4 separate regions of the Homo sapiens genome follow, and regions 1, 3 and 4 are each reported to be linked to region 2. Evidence: microRNA targets listed by miRTarBase, many of them from high-throughput screens and not tested one by one. Region 2 holds a microRNA gene; each other region holds the end of a gene's coding sequence. Distances are from middle to middle.

Region 1 (7,379 bases), not on the chromosome of region 2:
TTGGGACACAGTCTCATTCTGTCACCCAGGCTGGAGTGCAATGGCGCAATCTCAGCTCACTGCAACCTCCTCCTCCCGGGTTCAAGCGATTCTCCTTCCTCAGCCTCCCGAGTAGCTGGGATTAGAGGCACCCGCCACCACGCCTGGCTAATTTTTGCATTTTTAGTAGAGACGCGGGTTTCACCACGTTGGCCAGGCTGGTCTCGAACTCCTGACCTCAGGTGATCCACCTGCCTCGGCCTCACAAAGCGCTGGGATCACAGGCGGGAGCCACCGCACCCAGCCAGGCCTTGCTTCTTAGCACCCCACGTGGAAACACCAGACAACCCTACGGAGGCCACCCCCAGCCCGGCTTCTATGGGGGCCACCCCTATGCCGTCCCGCTGCCCACGTGGGCTCAGGCGCAGCTGAAGCTTTCACGCTCCTTGTTAAAAATCATAAAAACCAAAATAGTGGCAAAGGCCGAAGATGCCGCGAGTGCTGGGCTGGGGATCGGGACTCGGCACCTTCTGGGCGCTTCCGTCCAGGGGGTCACCATTCGGATCCCCCGGTAGAGATGGGGAAACTGAGGCTTGGAGCGGCCTAGCCGCGGAGCCGGGCATGCTGGGGTTTGGCCTTGGGTCCGTCACGTCCCGTTCACGCCGGGACGCGCCGCTCCGCCTCTCGGCCTCAGTTTCCCCCTCTGTCACCGGGAACAACAAGGGACCTGGGCCCGGCCCGGCCCGGCCCCCGGAAACGCGCACAAATACGGAACGCAGCGGCGCGGGGCTGGGCCGAGGCGGGAGCGCGGATGGGGCCGCGGGTCGGCGTCCTCACCAGTTCTTGACCAGCTCCCGGTAGCGTGGGCCCAGGAACCGGGTCACCATCGCGGCGGAGTCGCACCCTCAGGATGACCCTGTCCAGCTGACCCGGCTACACTGCGCAGGCGCGGCCGCGGCGCGCACGCGCGCGGGGAGGGCGGGGGGGGGGGGAGGAAAAAAAAACATCATCCGCCACTGTGCGCGCAGACCCGGAAGCCACTTACAGTAACTTCCGGCGAGGGTTGGACGACCGCGGAGAAGTGGTCCGGAGTGGGCGGCGTTAGGGCGGTGCTTTCTGGCCACGTGGTCTGGCGGCCGATTGTGCTTCTGGGCTCCGCGGGGCTACCTGCCAGTGATTTTGTGCGCCTAGTATGTGCCAGAACGTTATTTACAATGAAGGAAACTGAGGTCCAGCGGGGAAGGGTCTTGCTCAGAGTCACACAGAGGGGAAGAGCTGGGATTGGAGCCCACTTTTGGAGGCGTCAGGCGTTGTTCCTGATTCGCTGTAGGACTTTGGTCGAGCGGCAGTGCTTCCCTGAGCCTCAGCGTTGCCCGTTGCTTGGAGGCCCTGTCGGAAATCTCTTTGCAGGATTCCGTTTGCGAGCCTGGGTTATTCCTCATTCCGGCAGCAGAGGGTGGCCTGGCTCCTTGCTCGGTGAACGTCTCTGGATGCTCTTAGCTGATGACAGGCAGGTCTTTCTGCCTCCTGCTTTCCACCGCACCAGGCTCGCTTGGGCTCGCCTTTCTCCAGTCCCTGCTTCCTCTGCTCTCCCACAACCCGGCGCAGCACCGTACATGCTCACTCAGCTCCCAGCTTCCAGCCTCCCCCCTGCACACCGGGCCGGTGTGGGCAGAAGGAAGAGGGGCATATTCCCAGACACCGCCATTGCACTTTTGTGCCTTTTCCCCCATATTCAAGAGTTGCCTCCCTCAGGAAGCCCTCCTGGACTGCCTGACCCACAGGCACCTTTACAGCATGAACGGAAAGGCCATAGCCTAGACGGGGCACTGGGCGTGATTTGTCTCTCGGGCGCCAGCGTCACTTGCAGGCCTCGTGATAAGGAATGGACACCGTGGGTTCTTCTGCCCAGCCTGGCCTGTCCTCCTGGGGTCAGCCCCTCAGTACACCCCAAGCCTGCAGCTCTCTGGGGACTGCGGGTGCTAACCCATCCCTATCCCTGGTTAAGGACTCAGGGTGGGAGCCGGAAATAGGTTTTGGACACCACAGTCTGGGCACTGTTTTTCTTTCTTTTTTTTTTTGAGACGGAGTCTCGCTCTGTGGCCCAGGCTGGAGTGCAATGACACGATCTCGGCTCACTGCAACCTCCGCTTCCCGGGTTCAAGCTTCTCCTGCCTCAGCCTCCCAAGTAGCTGGGACTACAGGCGTGAGCCACCACACCTGGCTAGTTTTTGTATTTTTAGTAGAGATGGGGTTTGGCCATGTTGGCCAGGCTTGTCTTGAATTCCTGACCTCAAGTGATCCGCCTCCCAAAATGCTGGGATTACAGGTGTAAGCCACCGGGCCCGGCCCTGGGCATTGTTTGTAGAACTTTCCAGTTGGCTTGGGGTTTTTGAGCTTGGGATCAGAGAGCACCTGAATAAGACTCTTCCCATTGGTGGAAACTTAAAAAAGTGGGATGCAGGGGCTGACACAGAGACTATTAAGAGAAAGGACAGGAACACAAGGGCTGCTGGAATGTCAGCCCAGAGTTTCCAGATGCCACAATGTAAGAGTTCACCAGTGGCCGGGCACGGTGGCTCACGCCTATAATCCCAGCACTTTGGGAGGTTGAGGCGGGCAGATCACCTGAGACTGGGAGTTCGAGACCAGCGTGACCAACATGGAGAAACCCCATCTCTACTAAAAATACAAAATTAACCGGACATGGTGACGGATGCCTGTAATTCCAGCTACTCGGGAGGCTGAGGCAGGAAAATTGCTTGAAAACCCGGGAGGCAGAGGTTGCGGTGAGCCGAGATCACGCCATTGCACTGCAGCCTGGGCAACAAGAGTGAAACTCCGTCTCAAAACAAACAGACAAAAAAAAGAGTTCATCAGAGACAGTGACATAAACAAGAGCTGAGAGATGGAGAGAGATTTGTAATGACACCTGGATCCAGCTGTGCCTGAAGCCATTCAACATGACATAGAACTTCCTTTTTGTTTCTTGAGCCGGTTTTTGTTATTTTGTTGGACCATCTGGATGTCCCCTCCACCCTTTTTTTTTGAAACGGAGTCTTGCTGTCGCCCAGGCTGCAGGCTGGAGTGTAGTGGTATGATCTTGGCTCACTGCAAGCTCCGCCTCCCAGGTTCACGCCATTCTCCTGCCTCAGCCTACCGAGTAGCTGGGACTACAGGTGCCCGCCACCACGCCTGGCTAATTTTTTGTATTTTTAGTAGAGATGGGGTTTCACCGTTAGCCAGGATGGTCTCGATCTCCTGACCTCGTGATCCGCCCGCCTTGGCCTCCCAAAGTGCTGGGATTACAGGCATGAGCCACTGCACCTGGCCCACCCTTTTTTTTTGACAGGTTCTGGCTCTGTTGCCCAGGCTGGAGTGCAGTGGTGCAATCACAGTTCACTGCCACCTCAAGCGATCCTCCCACCTGAACCTCCTAAGTAGCTGGGACTACAAGTGTGTGTCACCAGGTACAACCAATTTAATTTTGATTTTTTGAGACAGTCTCGCTCTGTCGCCCAGGCTAGAGTGCAGTGGTGCAATCTCAGCTCACTGCAATCCCTGCCTCCTGGGTTCAAGCTATTCTCCTGCCTCAGCCTCCCAAATAGCTGGGATTACAGGCTTGCGCCACCATGCCCGGCTAATTTTTGTATTTTTAGTAGAGATGGGATTTCGCCATGTTGGCCAGGCCGGTCTCGAACTCCTGACCTCAAGTGATCCACCCGCCACAGCCTCCCAAAGTGCTGGGATGACAGGCGTTAGCCACCGCGCCCGGCCAATGTATATTTTAAAAGTTGTTTTCCAGCATGAATTTAGAGGCCAGCTGGGTAGAGTGGTGGACAGGGCTCCCTCAGCACCTTCTGTCAACTCCTGGCCACTCTCTTTCCCTTAAAAATTATAGACATGGGGTCTCACTATGTTGCCCAGGCTGGACTGGAACTCCTGGCCTCAGGCGATCCTCCCGCCTCAGCCACCTGAAGTGCTGGGATTACAGATATGAGTCACTGTGCTGAGCCTTCTCCTCCCTAAGGCACTTGTGTGCCAAAGGGCTCTCTCCTGGGGGCCACCCCCCGTCAAGTGGCCAGGAAGGCACTCCTTCCACCCCAACCCTGTAGGGGAGCAGGGCAGTCCAGCTGTGTCCTCGCAGAGATGCAGCGGCCAAGTCCCTGGGCACAGCAGCAGATGCCTGCCAGTGGGCACTTTGGGATGAGCAGCGCCCCCACAGGTCCTGCCACACCCCTTCCCCCCGAGAGCTCTGTCCGTGGGTTCCGTGGGCATCCGGTTGTGGAGGAAGTCACAGATGCCGCACTAAGGAGTGTGGGGTTGACGCTGCCAGCAACGGAGCCGTGGAAGGTTTCAGAGGAGCAGTGACAGACTCAGACTTCGAGCCGACTTCGGAGCAGGAAGGGGCAGGGAAGTGGGTTCCAACAGCCCGGGGGGGGGACGTTGGGAGATGGGGAGCCCTCCCAGATGGGGGCTGGGAGGACCGCAGGTCCTGGATGGTTCCTACGCGCCCAAGTGCAGCCCCCAGGGAGCTGCTTTTCCCCGGGAGCCAATCCTGCTTCCAGGTGGCCTGGAGCCCTGAGTACACATGCAGGTTCCCAGCCGCCCTGGGAGCCATGGGCTCCTCAGAGTGAGGAGTCGCTTCGAGGAAGCCCAGTGCACAGGGTGGACCACGGTCCTTGCTGCACCCGAGGTGAACGTCAGGGCCCCCCCCCACTTCCCTTCCTAAACATGTGACACCAGAAAGAACCCGGGGACTGCAGGGCATCGTTATAAAATGTCACGTTTATTGCTACAGTGCTGTTATATACAGGACAGGTCTCTGAATCCACCTGAAAGAGGGTCGTTTTAAAGTCCCAATCATCCAGCCAGCTGTGTTGACACGTATACAATTATTTTCTTTAAAAAAATTTTTTTGAAAACCATCTTGAGGCACTCAGATCACACCCCCCACCCCCCATAATTGTGGTTCCCAGGAACTGCTGTTTCTTCCTCCTCGCGCTGGGTGAATCTCGTTTGAATTCTATGCAGAACGCACAGTTCCAGAGGCTATGGGGCCACTGCCCACCCAGACCTAGGGGCAGGGCCAGGAGCAAAACAAGAGGGAGAGGCAAGTTCCCTTAAGAGATCAAACTCCCAGGGCGTAGGGGAAGCCACCGAGAAGGGAGAGGCAGCCGGACAGCCCCTCCCCTCCGCCTGGCCTGGACTGGGGGCAGATACCAGGCATTGAGCTGGCCTTGAGGTTTCCCTTGCATCTACCATGGGGCCCAGGCTCCCAAGCCAGTCTGGGGAGGGGAGTCAGGCAGTCCAGGATCTCCTGGGGGTAACGGTGGGAGTCTCAGGAGTGGCACGGGGGGAGACGCCCGACCTGCAGCGGGGATGAACACAGCCAGCCCAGGGGTCCACAAGGCCTCAATGCAGGGAGGGGCATGAAGGGCACATGAAGGCCCCCAGCTAGCCAGGCCCACACCTGGGTGCCACAGTGACCACTGCCCTAGTTCGTGTGGAACTGGATGGGATCCCAGGGTAGGAGACTTGCAGTTTTAAACCCAAGACAGTCCCCAGCCAGCTGGGAAGAGCTGGTTACCCTCATGGCAAAAGACCAGAAAAGGAGACCTGGAGAGAGGCCTGGGTGCTGGGACATGGGACACAGATGGGCCCGAGGGGACACCCTGCTGGTTCTGCAGCAGGGTCGGACGCACAGCCCAAGGCCTTCGTGGGGCTCAGACCAGCACAGTCCCCCGGCTCCAGCCACTCTTGCCCTTGGACCACACAGAGGGAGGGCAGCAGGTGTGGCCCCAGGCCCAGGGATGCTCCCCAGCATTGGGGGAGGCTGGCCAGGCCCCTGGCATCCTGTCTACGTCACGATGGCCCTCTGGTGTAATGGGGACATGGTGGGGTGGGGTGGGGGGTGTCCTGTGCTGGCTCCTGAGCAGCATCCTCTCAGCCAGAGTTCAGAGCATGAGCCTGGGTCCCTGGGGCAAAGGAGTGAAGGACAGGGTGTCCAGGAGGTCCCCAGCACCGGGCTCCAGGGTGTGGTCCCCATGCCAGGGGTCACTGGTCCCAACAAAATGCCCCATTTCAGAGAGCTGTGCAGGTTCCAAGGGAGAGCAGCTTAGGGGGGCCTGGGGAGGGCGTTGTGTAGGGTAGCCCTGGGGGCCACAGCTGCTTGGCAGAGTCACCTGGGAGGGTCAGAGCCACCTTGCTGACGTCCCTTCCCCCAAGCCCAGGTCAGTCCCCTTCCTGAGGGGAGAGGATGCGGCAGGGAAGCCCCAAGGTGCCTTCATCAGGGAACGCCCACGCATCACTTTCCACATGACAAAACCAAGAGAACCCCCAACATCAAAAAAACAAAAGACCCGCCGCCTGTCCCCGTTCTGTCTGTGTGCAGTGGCTTCCGGGGGGGGGGGGGGACGGGGGGGCTCAGGTTTACACGGGGTCTTTTTAATACAACGTTTAATCATCTGGTTGATCAAGAAATGCAATGCTCAGTCTAGGAACAGCAGCAGAAATAGCGAGAGACACGGGACTTTTATACAAAAAAATTTGTTGCTTACAAAACATATGCAAAAAAAGCTTAAAAAAACCAGAGACCAAAGGCAGCATCCTTGCTAATTTTCATCTACATTAAGAAAAAAAAAATCTTGTAACTAATGTTTTTATTTTCCTTAAAAAAAATATTTCGCTTAGGCACAATTTGCTGGTGGCTTTAGAAGAATAAGCCAGGTTTCCACAGCATCCCCCTTGAGTGATATGTTTCCATTTCTCCGCTTTTTATAGTTAAGGCATTTTTTTCTTCTCTGACAAAGTGTATGTTTTGTTGCTTGCTTTCAGGTTTTGTTTACTGGAAAAAAAAAAAATGCTCCTGTCAGCCCAGGCAACAGGGCCAAGATGCAGTTTCAGGATCCATGGGACAGGTCACAGAGTGACACGGTGGCTGAGATTCGGGGACAGGGGGAGCGAGGCCAGTGAGTGGTAGGCCAGGGCCCCAGGGAGCTCCTGGACCCAGTGTCACCTTGGCCGCCCCCATCACTCCGAACCTTGTCAGGTTGGTGTTGGCTCGATGCTGACAACAGGTGTGTGAGGTGTGGATGTGGATGAAGCCCGGGGTCTCGAGTGGCCGTTCTGGGGCCAGAGCACAGGGCTGAAAGCGGGTGGCTCGTCCCACGGAGGCATACCTTTCACATGTGCCCGGCGGGGTTGTGGGCTTCGCTCAGGCCTGGGTGGGGAGCTGAAAGCACCATCTGGGGGTCTCCAACCACACCTGACACCTTTTCCTCTTCTCGCCGTTTCAAACAGGCTGCTTTGGGATTCAGGTTCCGCTCTGGAGGGAGGGGGGAGAGCTCTGTGGGAGACGGTCCCAGGGAGGAGAAAGATGTGAGGTGGGAGTGGGGGGT
Region 2 (3,000 bases):
CCCTGCGCACTCCCCCTGTGTCTACCAACAAATTCTTCTTGGGCTTCAGAACCCTACCAAGAGTCTCCTCTTTATTTATTTATTTATGAATTATTTATTGAGACAGGGTCTCACTCTGTCGCCCAGGCTAGAGTACAGTGATGTGATTATGACTGCAGCCTCGATGTCCTGGGCTGAAGCGATCCTTCCATCTCAGTCCCCTGAGTAGGTGGGACTGTAGGCACACACCACCAAGCTCAGCTAATTTTAAAATTTTTTTTTAGAGATGGGACCTTGCTGTGTTGCCCAGGCTGGTCTTGAACTCCTGGACTCAAGTGATCTGCCTGCCTTGGCCTCCCAAAGTGCTGGCCTCCTTTTTAAAAAATTTTTGGGGCCTAGAGTGTGTTGTTGTCCCCCTAGACAGAATTAACTACCCGTATGTGTGGAAATCTTCCTTTGCCATTTCTCCTACATGTAGGGAAACCCTTGTCTGGGATTATGTCTTACTGACCTCTGCATCCTGGCCTGGTAGCTGGCACCACGTGTGTTAGAATGAACATGGTGTGGGATCGTCTATTTGACAGTGTGGGTTAAATCCTTGCAGTGCACTGAAGACTGCTCTAAGAGATACAAGACCGTGTCTCCTAAGAGCTGATGTTCCAATACCTGGGTGTATCACGCCAGCTCGGGCTGCCACATTTAGTACCACCTGCCAGGAGGCTTCCCCAGCAGAGACTGATTGTCTCCCAGTCCTGCACACTGGAAGACTGAGGTCAAAGCTGGTTCCCCCTGAGGCCTATCTCTTGGGCCTGTAGATGCCTTTTCTTCCCTGTATCCTCACAGGGTCTCCCCTCTGTGGGTGTCTGTGTCCTAGTCGCCCCTTCTTATGAGACTCAAGTTATTTTGGATTGCAGCCCACCCTAATGGCCTCATTTTACTATGATTTCCTCTTTAAAAGCCCTTTTTTCTAATAGTCAAGTTCTGAAGTCCTGAAGTTTCTGGCTTCAACATACGGATTTGGCGGGATGGACACAATTCGGGCCCTAACATGGAGTCAGATGCTATCACGTATCAGGCAGTGACACAGGAAGGACGCACGCCCAAGAGTGGGGCTGAGCAGGGAGCCTGCAGGGCAGGTGGAGCTGGGAGAGGAAGCAGTGCAACCACAGGGTTGGGCTCCAGCTGGGGTGGAGGTGCCCCTATGCTGAAGGCTGGGATGTGTGCCTGTCCTGTCCTTGGCACCCAGAGGCGCCCACTTGGGGCTCTGGGTGAGTGAGCCAACAGCCAGATGCCCTACATCCAAGTGTCAGGCAGAAGTGGGCCTTGGTCCGCAGGGCTGGGCTGCACCCCATTGGTGATGCCTCCTGGCACACATGTCAGAGCCTCTGTCCAGCATTCCTGTGTCTGAGCCTTGCTGCGGGTGGTTTATGGCCCCCTGTGTGTGTTTTTGCTGCCTGACGCTCAAATGTAGGAGAGGGGGACGGGGCGAGGCTCCAGGGGCGGGGAGGGGACTCCAGGAGCAAGCGATGGTCACTGACACCGAGTGTGCTGTTTCTCCTCCCCACATAGGACATCAAGGACGCCCTGCGCAGGTACGAACCCAGCCTCTCCTGGAGGGGGGGCAGGAGGGAGTGGGGTGGGACCCAGCTGTTGGCCATGGCGACAACACCTGGGTTGTCCCCTCTAGGGTCCAGGATGTGAAGCTGCAGCCCCCAGAAGTTGTGCCTATGGAGCTGAGGACCGTGTGCAGGGTCCCGGGACTGGTAGAGACACTGCGGAGGTTTCGAGGTAGGTGTGGAGGCCCCAGGTGGGGAGATGACTCCAGGAGGGGACCTGCCAAGGACCTGGGCAGCCAGCCACGTGTTCTGTGCCCTGCCACTGCCAGCTCCAAACTCACAGTGTCATGGTGGTGGGTTGTTGGGAAAACGTCCTCTGCTCATACTTCTGACATCAGTTGTGTGGGTATTTTCACACCAAACAATTCTTCAACTTCTGGAAACGAATTGGGTATCCAAGGATTCCATTCAGCATTGAACAGAATTGCCAGTGCTGACACTACAGGAGTTAGTACAGACCCCACAGATTAAGGGCTCAGTCCCATAAGACTGCCCCCACTTCAGATGCCAGTCACAACTTCCAGGGGCTGCCCATACTTCTGTTCCCTCAGCGCCTCTGCAGATGTGAGCATTCGCTAGCACAGCCCATGGAACTCAGAAGAGCACTTTACTTACTGTCATTGGTTTATTGTGAAGGATACCACTCAGGAAGAGCCAAATGGAAGAGACACATGGGCAAAGCCTGGGGAAGGGCTCAGAGCTTTCCCACCCTCCCTGGGTGCACCTTCCCAGCACCTCAGTGTGCTCACCAACCTGGAAACTCCCTGAGCCCCAAGAGCTGTTTAGGTGTCTTTGTGGAGGTTCCATTACATGGTTATGATTGATTAAATCATTGGTCATTGGTGATGGGGCTCAACCTCAGACCCCTTTCCCCTTCCTGAGGTCAGAGGCTGGGGCTGAGTGTTCCCGCCCTCTACTGACAGGATTGGTCTTTCTGGTGGCTGGCCTTATGCTGGGCTCTCAGGTCCCCACCTCAGCCACTGCAGTGGCATCAACTCAGGTGTGATGGAAAGGGGCATCTTATGATAGCACAAGATGCTTCTATCAGTCAGGAAATTCCCAGGGTTCTGTGAGCTCTGCGCCAGGAACTGGGCACAAAACCCAAATCTGAGTCTTGTATCACAGTCACCCAAAGGAAGTACTATCCTCAGCTCTTGCTAGCAGGTCAGGAGCCTGTTGTGTAGGAACTGTGTGCAGGCCTCCAGAGGTGGATAGATCTGAAATCGGAGTGGTCAGGGTTGGGACAGCTGCCCTAATTCACATCCTTCATTTGGAGATTGAAAGGAAAAACAGACTGGATGCATTGGCTCACCTCTGTAATCCCAGCACTTTGAGAGGCTCAGGCGGGAGGATTGCTTGAGGCCATCAGTTCAAGACCAACCCGGGAAACATAGCAAGACTCCCA
Region 3 (3,000 bases), 26 Mb from region 2:
CTGTGGCTGACCCACATTACACGTGGGGAGAAGTGGTAGTAGAGGTAGGTAAGGCAGAGTGGGCCCAGAGCTCCATGGCTTTAATGTCATGCTAAGGAATTTAACATTAATAACATGAACAATGGGAATCTGTGGAATTTTAGGCCAGAAATAACTGTTCGATATTTACTGTCTGCTGTATGTTAAGCACTGTAATGATCCTATCTGTGCTTCAGAAAGATAACCTATGAATAAATAGAGGGGCTAGATTGAAGAGAGGAAAAAGAGTAGAGGTAAGGTATCAGGTAGCTATTACCTCATCAGTCTAGCTCAGAAAGGCCCTGAAGCTAGCAGAGGGAACAAAGATATGGGAATGGACTTGAAACAATTAAAATTGTACAGAACTTAGAAACTAGCTGGATGTCTGTATTGTGATGGGGGTGACACAAAGCAACTGCTGGTTTTCCCAGGTTAGATAACTAAGTAGCTGGTTGCCAGTTATGGGAGCTTAAAAAAATAAGATGAACCACCAAATTAGGGGTATCTCTGTGTATGTATGTGAGCACATGAAAGTGTGTACGATTGTGAAGAGTGAAAAAGGAGCTGTTTTACGTGTTGATTTTTCTGTAGAACATACCATTGTGGCTTCAGTGTATGAACTATTTGTGAAGTTGGTCTGAAACTCATTAGTCAGCACTGAAGACAGCATAGGAGCCATCAGTCCTTCACCCTCCCCTGGATCTCTTCCTGAGATAGGAAAAGTCACGTTTTATAGGCTTTGGTTTAATTAGCATGCACAATCCATCTGCCAAAGTTGGTAGGCATCTTTTAAGGAAAATAACTTCCTCATGTGGCTCCTCCTTCCTTTTGCTCTGGAAGCATCAGGACTGTTTCAGTTTTGCAGGCCTTCCGCATAGCTGTTTATATCACATGCCACAATTCAAAGCAAATGGAAAAAAGGACTGGTGTGACTGAAACCCTGAAATTCAAGCGCGTGCTAAGTGAATTCAAGATCTTTTCTGTATTCCTTTTTCAAGTAACTCCAAGCGTCAGAGGGGCTAATGAATATGGCAAATCAGGTAAATATTTTACTGATGAGAATCTCCAAAGTGTAAAGTGGCTACCTCTTACCTGTGTCTAACATAGAAATAGCGGAACTAGTTGGCAAACACACAAGATGAACAGCTTGAAGAGACAGGAGCTACGGCTGATCCCTACATCTTTCCCTCCCAAATATCTACTAAAGGCAATGTTGGTTAGCCACAAACTCTCGGCATTTGAGACCGTTGATTTTTAATATTTTCTTAAAAAAATACAAAGGAAATTAACTCTGTAGGTCAATACAACTCAGGGAAAGAGGGAAAAATGGAATTTCAGAGCAAAGGTTGTTTAGGTTATCACATTCCCACACTCCTAATACCCACAAAACAAGAATTTCACTCCATGACACAGAGGAACATTGAATGGTAGCTCAGAAATGTTGATAGCTGAGGTACTGAAACTAACAAAAGGATTTTGGTTGTCCTTGATTATTCTGTCCTGTGATGAATAAAATCTACACTAAAGGACAGGTAAGGAAAACTTATAGCAGAAAAAAGACTAGATGTACCAAACACAGCAGTACAAACCACTCCTTGGCAGACATGTGCTTCTAAAAGAATGGGGCAGTAATCAGGTAGCTGAACTACTAGGCTACTGTCACTCCCAGCCCATCCCCAAATAAATAGTGTGGAAGTGTAATAGTGTAGTAGTATTTGATCCAACAAAGAAAGGCTTTCACCCCCATTCAAGGCAAACATTGCCATGGCTAGATGAGCCCTGGCAGGTAATAAGATGACTGTAAAATCACAGGTTCTTCTAGTTTATCCCCAGTTATACTGAACTCCCACATTGATGTCATCTTCTCTCATCCCAACATTTGTTCACTCTTTTATGCTGTCTCCAGTGCGAAAGACCTCGGGGAAATAAAAAGATCCTTCAAATAATATACCCTTCTCAGTCTTCCAGGTTATGTAATACTTCAGTGCTGTTCTAGGTTCACTCACAATCAAATTCAGTTTAATTCACTTAATTCTAACTTCAATTCTGATATACAAATCCTGACCTCCAAAAGAAGTGTCAGATGAGTCTCTCTCTCCCTTGTCCCCAAAGTTTTGTGGGGCTCTCCCTTTTGTTTCCCTCTAGAATGGAACTGTGTTGCCCCTAGCTACCTGTATATGAGAAAATGTAGTTGTTCCTGGAAAAAAAAAAAAAGACTTGGATTTTACCAAGTTTACTTAAACTGGTATCTTTCCAATCATCTAGGCTGGATATTGCCCATATCTAGTAGGCTATACTCACCTTAGTTCTTTGCAACATATGAGGCACAACATACATATAGTACACCAAGCATGTGGTAAGTTAGAAATGACAGGAAAGTGCTCCCCAAAGCAGTGGGAGAGGCAATGTGGTCTCTCACATCCATTCAATGTGCATTCTTTTTCCTGGAATATCTGTTACCCACCCTTCTCAGGAACAAGAACCAGGACGACGGGGAGTATGTGTCAAATAAGTACAATCATCACTGCACTGGTGCCTGTAATCACCCGGTGCACATAGTGAGAAACAGACATTCTGGAAAGGATTTTTGATTCTCCCACTAACTGTCCACTGGACTGGTCACTAGCTCTGGATGGTGCTCCAACAATGGTCACTTCTCGCGGAGAACACAAACACCAGCATCACAGCGCTGGGTTCCCATGGATGTCACGACTTCCCAGCTGTCGATGATAGGGTCATAACATTCAATGCTACTTAGCAGGGAATTACCATCATATCTGAGTGGGAAAGAAGCAAAAGAAAGAAATGAGTCAGCTGCGTGCAGTGGCACGTGCCTGTAATCCCAACTATGCAGGAGGCTGAGGTAAGAGGATTGCTTAAGCCCAGGAGGGAATTTGAGACCAGCCTGGGCAACATGGTGAGACCCTGTCTCAATAAAATTTAAAGAAAGAAAGAAAGAAATTAGCCTTCTATTCCTTTCCA
Region 4 (7,143 bases), not on the chromosome of region 2:
TGGATGAGACACAGTGGCAGACCCCAGGCCAGTTCAACCCCGGCCATTTCCTGGACGCGAATGGGCACTTTGTGAAGCGGGAGGCCTTCCTGCCTTTCTCTGCAGGTCAGCAGCCCTCGGGGCCGGGGTGGGGCGGCACCTCCAGGGCTCCAGGGGTGGGACGGCCCCAGCTCCGCCTGCCGCCTCTGCACCCACCTCCTGATCTCAGGTTCTGAAGGCGGCTGTGGTGGCTGCTCCTGTGCTCCCCTGGGGAGGTCCCCACCCCTCCCCTCCAGGAGCAGGCCTGGTGCAGCCCACTCTGTGCCTGGACATCCCCCGCAGGCCGCCGCGTCTGTGTTGGGGAGCGCCTGGCCAGGACCGAGCTCTTCCTGCTGTTTGCCGGCCTCCTGCAGAGGTACCGCCTGCTGCCCCCGCCTGGCGTCAGTCCGGCCTCCCTGGACACCACGCCCGCCCGGGCTTTTACCATGAGGCCGAGGGCCCAGGCCCTGTGTGCGGTGCCCAGGCCCTAGGAGCTCCCCCAGCCCCCAGGTCCTCCTGACCACTCCCCTCCCAGCCCTGGGTCCTCCCACCCTCTCTCCTCCCACCCCACAGCTCGGACTGCTCTGGGAGGGCCCTGAGGACTCCCACCCTCACCCCCACCCCCACAGGGTCAGCAACTGCTTCCGGTTACACCCAGGACTACCCCTGCCCGACCCTGTGGGACCCCCACCCCTCTGATGCTGTCTGCAGCTCAGTCCCTGCCAGCCCCCAGGAGCGCCTCCAGGGCCCCGCCCACTCTCCCACCCCTGAAGCTGCACTCCCACCCACCTAGCTCCCCCCAGGGCCCCCCAGCACCTACAGCTGGGGCTGCAGGGAGACAACGGGTGGCTGCATCCAGCCAGAGACAGGCGCAGGTGGGTGTCCTCAGCGTGCGAGCCCTGCACCCCCCAGGTCCTGGGACTCCTGCAGACCCCACTCCATTCCCGCTCCTGGAACACTTCCTGCAGCTGTGCCTGGAGGCAGTCGGCCTGCAGTGCCAGACTCTGAGCCAAGCCACTGGGGCCATGCGTATGACTGGTGCAGGGAGGCAAGGCCCACATTCTCCTTCAGAGACAGGCACTGGCGCCAGAGGCTTCCTTGGGGCGGGGGGAGGGCACCTCAGCCCCTGAAGACAAGCAGCACTGCAGTGGCAAAAATGGAAACACTGACCCGGTGCGGTGGCTCATGCCTGTAATCCCAGCACTTTGGGAGGCCGAGGCAGGCGAATCACGAGGTCAGGAGTTCGAGACCAGCCTGCCCAACATGGTGAAACCCTGTCTCTACTAAAAATACAAAAAAATTAACCGAGCATGGTGGCACGTGCCTGTAATCCCAGCTACTCAGGAGGCTGAGACAGGAGAATCGCTTGAACTGGGAGGCAGAGGTTGCAGTGAGCCGAGTTCGCACCACTGCACTCCAGCCTGGGTGACAGAGCGAGATTCCATCTCAAACAAACAGAAGGAAATGTCGAGCCACACAGTGGCACATGTGCTGGGGGCGGTGTGGTCGGCAGTGTGACAGTGGCACGTGTGCTGGGGGCGGTGTGGTCGGCAGTGTGAGTGGCGCGTGTGCTGGTGGCGGTGTGGTCGGCAGTGTGAGTGGCACCTGTGCTGGTGGTGGCGTGGTCGGCAGTGTGAGTGGCGCGTGTGCTGGGGGCGGTGTGGTCGGCAGTGTGAGTGGCGCGTGTGCTGGGGGCGGTGTGGTCGGCAGTGTGAGTGGCGCGTGTGCTGGGGGCGGTGTGGTCGGCAGTGTGAGTGGCGCGTGTGCTGGGGGCGGTGTGGTCGGCAGTGTGAGTGGCGCGTGTGCTGGGGGCGGTGTGGTCGGCAGTGTGAGTGGCGCGTGTGCTGGGGGCGGTGTGGTCGGCAGTGTGACAGTGGCGCGTGTGCTGGGGGTGGTGTGGTCGGCAGTGTGACAGTGGCGCGTGTGCTGGGGGCGGTGTGGTCGGCAGTGTGACAGTGGCGCGTGTGCTGGGGGTGGTGTGGTCGGCAGTGTGACAGTGGCGCGTGTGCTGGGGGCGGTGTGGTCGGCAGTGTGACAGTGGCGCGTGTGCTGGGGGCGGTGTGATGGGACACCTGCTGTCTGAGACGGCCCTGGCCCCCGTCCCAGCGCTGACCATGCACGTGAGCGGCAGGCGGCCCCTCACCGAGAAGAGAGGATAAGCCGTGGCACATTCCCACCTGCGCCACGTGAAGCGGCGCCCCAAGGCCAGGACGTGGTGGCCGGGACACACGGGTGCACGGCAGGCCTCACACTCCCAGGTGGGGCCGCAGGGTCCCTAAGTCATGGGTGGGGCTGCTGCTACGGAGGCTGCTGCAAGGACGAGAAGGGGACGGAGGGATGGAGGCTCGGCTGCGTCCGCTCACCTATTTCTGGGGAAGAGCAGGGAGCGAGTGCTGGCTTCACTATTCTCCCCTCAGACATTTGAAATATGACACTGAAAACTTGAAGGGCAGAAAGAACGGGGTCCTGGCGCCAGGTGGGGCCACGCGACGCCCCGCCCAGTGTGACTGGTGAGCCCCTCTGGAGCTCTGGAGGGTGCGGAACATTCCAGGGCAGGGGCTGTGGAAAATCCCTCCCAGCTGTTGTCAGGGCTCCCGGGTGGGGTGGAGGACTCAGGCCCAGCCCTCCCAACCCTACAGGGGACCCTTGTGCCCCCAACTTAGTCGGCCTCCTGGGTGGGGTGAAGGACTCAGGCCCCGCCCTCCCGGCCCTGCAGGGGACCCTCGGGCCCCCGCCTTACATTGGCCTGGGGTATTCATCTCCTTGGGCCCAGGGGAGCCCGAGGCCCACGTGGGGAGGAAACGCTGACCCTGTCCCGCCCCGCTTCATGGAGGCCCAGCCGACATGAGGGACACCAAGTACAGGGTGATGAGTGACGGCTGAGCTTCCCCTCAAAGCACTAAGACAATAAACATAACCCCAACCCCAACCCTGACCCCGCTCGCCCGACTCACGCGACCTCTCACCCCATCTCACCCAGCGAGATGACAGGGCTCCTCCACGGGGTACAGCCAGGGCCCCCCAAGTTAGGCGGTCCAAATGCCTCATCCTCAAGTGTAAACAAGCCTAGCTTAGTGAAAACAGAGTAAGCAGGTATCAAATCTCCTTTAACTCATGCCCATGGGCGTGGGCAGGGGTGTGGGGCGGGCAGGAGGGAAGGGGGGGGCCGAGTGAGACCCGAACCCCGGAGGTGCCACCTTCTCGACCGGGCAGACCTGGGTGCCCGTTTCTCACAGCTGCACTCAGGCTGCCGGCCAGGTGCACAGGCACGTCCCGGGGGCTTGCTGGGAAATGCCGGGGCTTGGCACGGATGGGACAGGCCACTGTCTACGCCTCATTTCCAAGTGTTTCTTTGTTGCTATTTTTAAAAATGGTGATAAAATACACGTAGAGAAAATTCACCATCAGCCATGTTGAAGTGCACAGTTCAGGGGCACAGGCACATTCACGGCCACCACTGTCACCTCCAGAGCCTCCTCATCTTCCCGGGCTGAAGCCCTGCTTGCGTTAAACACCCACTCCGAGTCCCTCCCCAGTCCTTCTCCTTCCTGGTCTGTGGGTGTGAGGGCTCTGGGGACCTCGAGTGAGTGGGGAGTGGTGGATTTGTCCTGCTTTATCCACGCACCTGCCAATGGGTCCTTTTCAAGGGTCCCAGAGAACTCAGGCAGCAGGCAGCCCGCGAGCCCAGCTTCCTCACGCATGGATTTCGGGAGATGCCTCTGTGGACATCCACCCCATGGTGCCCAGATGTCATGGGAGAGGCAGACACCCCGAACCCCATGGCTCACGACGTGGCTGAACTGCTCCCCGGACGTCTGTCCTCAGCAGCAGGAGGGACGCCGACCCCGGCCCCTGTACCCCCCCGCCTCTAGGTCTCCAGGGAAGGACCCTCCTGGGGTGGGCAGGCTGCTCTTGGCCCCAGATCTGCTTCTGGGTCTGAGGCTGGCCCTCAGCCGTGCTGCACGTGCCTCCCATTACCATCCTAAGTCAAGGCAAAACAAAACCACACAGTCCCCGAGCCATCTGCAAACCTCCCGCAGCAAGCTCGGAGGGTGAGGCCCCCCCACAGTAAGCTCGGAGGGTGAGGCCATCTGAGTGCCGGGCTGGCCGGGCTTAGGAGGAGACCAAGCTTTACCCACGGAGACGCCGTTTAATGGAACCCAAGTGACCCAAGGGAGCTGCCACGCCACCGCTCAACCACACCCACAGGGAACACACATGTAGGGGCCTGGGGCCTTGTCCAGTGCGGGGGTCCTGGTTCAGATGTCCTGAAGCTCCTCCCTCGGAGTGGGCAGCCCCCATTAGGAAACTTCTGGAACCCAGAGGCTGGAAGCCGGCCTCACTCTGGGACCTGGGCCCTCCCCGTGATTGCTGGGGCTCCCTCAGAGCGGGGGTCTTCTTCCCACCTTGGATGCTGAGGGGGAAGGAGGTAAGACACTGGAGGGCTGGGTGGGCTCACCAGGCTTCAGAGGGCAGTGGGACTTGGACAGCTCAGCCTAGCGCCCAGCTGTCTCTCCGGGCAGGTCTCACAAATGCCCCGAGGCAGGCCCATCGCTGGCCAAATTCCCCACCCCTCCTGCCTGGACTCAGTCCCTTGTGAAATCTAAGCAAAGTCCTAGGGTGTCTGAGGTCAGAGTGCATCGGGTAGCTCCTGCTGCATAACAAGCGGGGGAGGGGGTGGCCCATGGCTCTGGACTGCTGGGCCACAGGGGTGATGAGGTGAGGCTTGGAGGAGTCTGTAGGATCCTAACTTTGATGACTATTCAGGGTTTGAGGCTGCACTCAGCTTTATCGCCTGTGAAACCCACGCAGCCAGCAGGGGTACGAGTGCTTCTGAGGTCCCAGTGGGCGGGGGGTGGCCTGACCCAGACAGGGCAGGGGGACGGCAGCTGGAGCGCGTGGAGAGAGCGCCCGTTCCCTGGGAGCCACTGGAGGGCGCATGGCACACGGCGCCCGGCCAGGGCCTGACTGTGACTGGAGCAAGAGCCGAGGGACTGGACGGACGGCAGGTGGCGCCACCTGATCTGTGCAGGGACAGGCAGGGACAGGCAGGCAGAGAAAGAGCCCAGCTGGAGGCTGCCAGCGCTCCAGGGAGAGGAGTGGGGAGCGGACAGCGCCGGCCCGGGCTGGAAGGTCAGCTTGAGGCTCTGGGATGTGAACACTGGGCACCGAGTCATCCAGAAATAAATCCCAGGCACGGTGGGAGGCCGGGGTGGGAGGATCGCTTGAGCCCAGGAGTTTGGGACCAGCCTGGGCAACACAGTGAGGCCCCCCGCTTCTACAAAAAATACAACAATTAGCCGGGTGTAGTGGTAGCAACTGTGTTCCCAGCTACTCAGGAGGCTGAGGGAGGAGAATCGCCTGAGCCCAGGGGGGTGGAGGTGGCAGCGAGCAGAGCTCATGCCACCGCACTCCAGCCTGGACGACAGAGCGGGACCCTGTCTCTAAAAAGATGCCACTCTCTTGGGGGCTTGGAGGGAGGACAGTGCTCTGAGGGTGATTCAGCGGCCGAACCTGTGTCACTCTTGGTGGAGTGAGCAGACGGCACTTGGTGTGAGCTGTTTCTCAGACATCAATCCTGCAAGAAACTGCTCAGAGGCCGCTTCCTCAGAGGGCTGGGTGGGCTGGGGCAGGGGACGGTTTCCGGAAGCCGCACAGTGCTGTGAGAGGTCTCCAGCCTGCTCTGCGTGTTCGCACCCCCAATGTCAGGGAGGGCCCTTTGGCCTGGAAAGCCCAGTCTCCACAGGTCTGCTCACCCCCACAGGCAATGTGATTCTGACTTCCAAACAATGCTCCCTTTGATTATTTAAAAACATTACTTTTATTTTTATGTATTTATTTTTTCAGACAGAGTCTCGCTCTGTCACCCAGGCTGGAGTGCAATGGCACGATCTCGGCTCACTGCAACCTCTGCCTCCCGTGTTCAAGCGATTCTCCTGACTCAGCCTCCTGAGTAGCTGGGATCACTACAGGCGCCCACCACCACACCCAGCTAATTTTTGTATTTTTAGTAGAGATGGGCTTTCACCAGGTTGGTCAGGCTGGTCTCGAACTCCTGACCTCATGATCCGCCCACCTTGGCCCCCCCCAAAGTGTTGGGATTACAGGCGTGAGCCACTAAATTTAGTGCTCACCGCACTAAATTTTTTTTAGATGCCGGCTCTTGCTGTGGTGTAATCACTGCTCACTGCAGCCTTGACCTCCCGAGCTCAAGCCATCCTCCCACCTCAGCCTCCCGAGTAGCTGTGACTTCAGACACATGCCACCATCCCCGGATTTTTTATTTTTTGTTGGGGGGCAGTTTAGCCATGTTGCCCAGGCTGGTCTCAAACTCCTGAGCTCAAGCGATCCTCCCGCCTCTGCCTCCCAAAGTGCTGAGTTACAGGTGTGAGCCGCCGCACCCGGCATGAGTTATCAGTGTGTGGCTTGGTGTTTCTGACACCTGCACACACTTGCATATCTACTGCAGGGGACATTTCTCCCTGAGCTCAGCCCAGATGTGCTTTGTCACAGCCCATCGCTTATGGCCTTGGACACATGTAAAGAGAAAAGCACGCATGCCCACGCTAAGTTTGGCCCCTCACTTGGCACAAATCTTGATCCGCCACCTGGCTTGCTGCAGGTCAGCAGCTGCCCTCTCCACAGTGAGGAGCACTTGCCGAGGGACAGACGTGAGGGACGGACGTGAGGGTCGTCTCCAGGCTAAGGCGGGGCTTCCTTAGCCGGAGGCTTCCTGGCTCAGGAGTCCCGCACAAGCGCCAGCTGAGACAGGGACTCACAGCCCGTTCTCTGGCACACACAGCCCCAGCACATGTGGCCCGACGTGGCTGGCCCCTGGGGTTGCATGGGCGGGTGCCCTCACTGACCTGCACGGGGTAGGGAGACCCCAGGGCATTGCGTGGTTCTCTGAGCCACATTCCAGGTGACTTCTCTGCGCCACCCTTCGGCATCTTTCGCCAGGGAGCCCTGAGGAGCTTGGCACCTTACGATCCACAGAGGTGGGAACCCCTGACAGGAGAGCACTCCCCAGCCGGTGTCAGGGGAGCATCTGTGCTGTCGAAGGGAGGCCCAGGTCTTCAAGACCTTTTCCCACTAATGGTCGGTGAGGACTCAGCAGTACCCACC

The links. Region 2 holds the annotated microRNA hsa-miR-6742-5p (AGUGGGGUGGGACCCAGCUGUU, at 1,610-1,631, shown strand). A microRNA usually pairs through its seed, bases 2 to 8, with sites in the 3' UTR of a target mRNA and lowers its output. Matches are read on the target gene's strand: a 7mer-m8 pairs with bases 2 to 8, a 7mer-A1 pairs with bases 2 to 7 and ends in A, and an 8mer does both.
Region 1: miRTarBase lists TCF3 as a target of hsa-miR-6742-5p. Seed matches in the 3' UTR shown: 7mer-m8 at 5,882-5,888 and 7mer-m8 at 5,877-5,883.
Region 3: the mRNA of KLHL12 is a reported target of hsa-miR-6742-5p. Seed matches in the 3' UTR shown: 7mer-A1 at 2,134-2,140.
Region 4: miRTarBase lists CYP2W1 as a target of hsa-miR-6742-5p. Seed matches in the 3' UTR shown: 8mer at 583-590, 7mer-A1 at 640-646 and 7mer-m8 at 949-955.

What each region holds. Positions count from the first base shown.
Region 1 is chr19:1,604,544-1,611,922 of GRCh38, forward strand. It overlaps TCF3 (transcription factor 3), which reads right to left. Exons shown (of 19, transcript NM_003200.5): 19 at 4,749-7,306. The coding sequence ends at 7,164. UQCR11 (ubiquinol-cytochrome c reductase, complex III subunit XI) reads right to left here and starts at 919. Exons shown (of 3, transcript NM_006830.4): 1 at 817-919. The coding sequence starts at 866. RefSeq lists silencers at 670-739, 790-1,049 and enhancers at 1,110-1,419, 1,875-2,496, 3,979-4,028, 4,059-4,128.
Region 2 is chr1:228,395,714-228,398,713 of GRCh38, reverse strand. MIR6742 (microRNA 6742) reads left to right here and starts at 1,605; the gene lies at 1,605-1,666. TRIM11 (tripartite motif containing 11) reads left to right here. Exons shown (of 6, transcript NM_145214.3): 4 at 1,549-1,571; 5 at 1,667-1,767. TRIM11-AS1 (TRIM11 antisense RNA 1) reads right to left here. Exons shown (of 3, transcript NR_199157.1): 2 at 2,908-3,000; 3 at 1,747-1,971.
Region 3 is chr1:202,889,865-202,892,864 of GRCh38, forward strand. It overlaps KLHL12 (kelch like family member 12), which reads right to left. Exons shown (of 12, transcript NM_021633.4): 12 at 1,256-2,795. The coding sequence ends at 2,669. Among named protein-coding and RNA genes, the nearest start is that of RABIF, 2.2 kb to the left of the region's middle.
Region 4 is chr7:988,314-995,456 of GRCh38, forward strand. CYP2W1 (cytochrome P450 family 2 subfamily W member 1) reads left to right here. Exons shown (of 9, transcript NM_017781.3): 8 at 1-105; 9 at 322-1,327. The coding sequence ends at 509. It also overlaps a transcript of CHLSN not described here. Among named protein-coding and RNA genes, the nearest start is that of CYP2W1, 8.7 kb to the left of the region's middle. RefSeq lists silencers at 75-144, 4,754-4,843 and an enhancer at 454-1,054.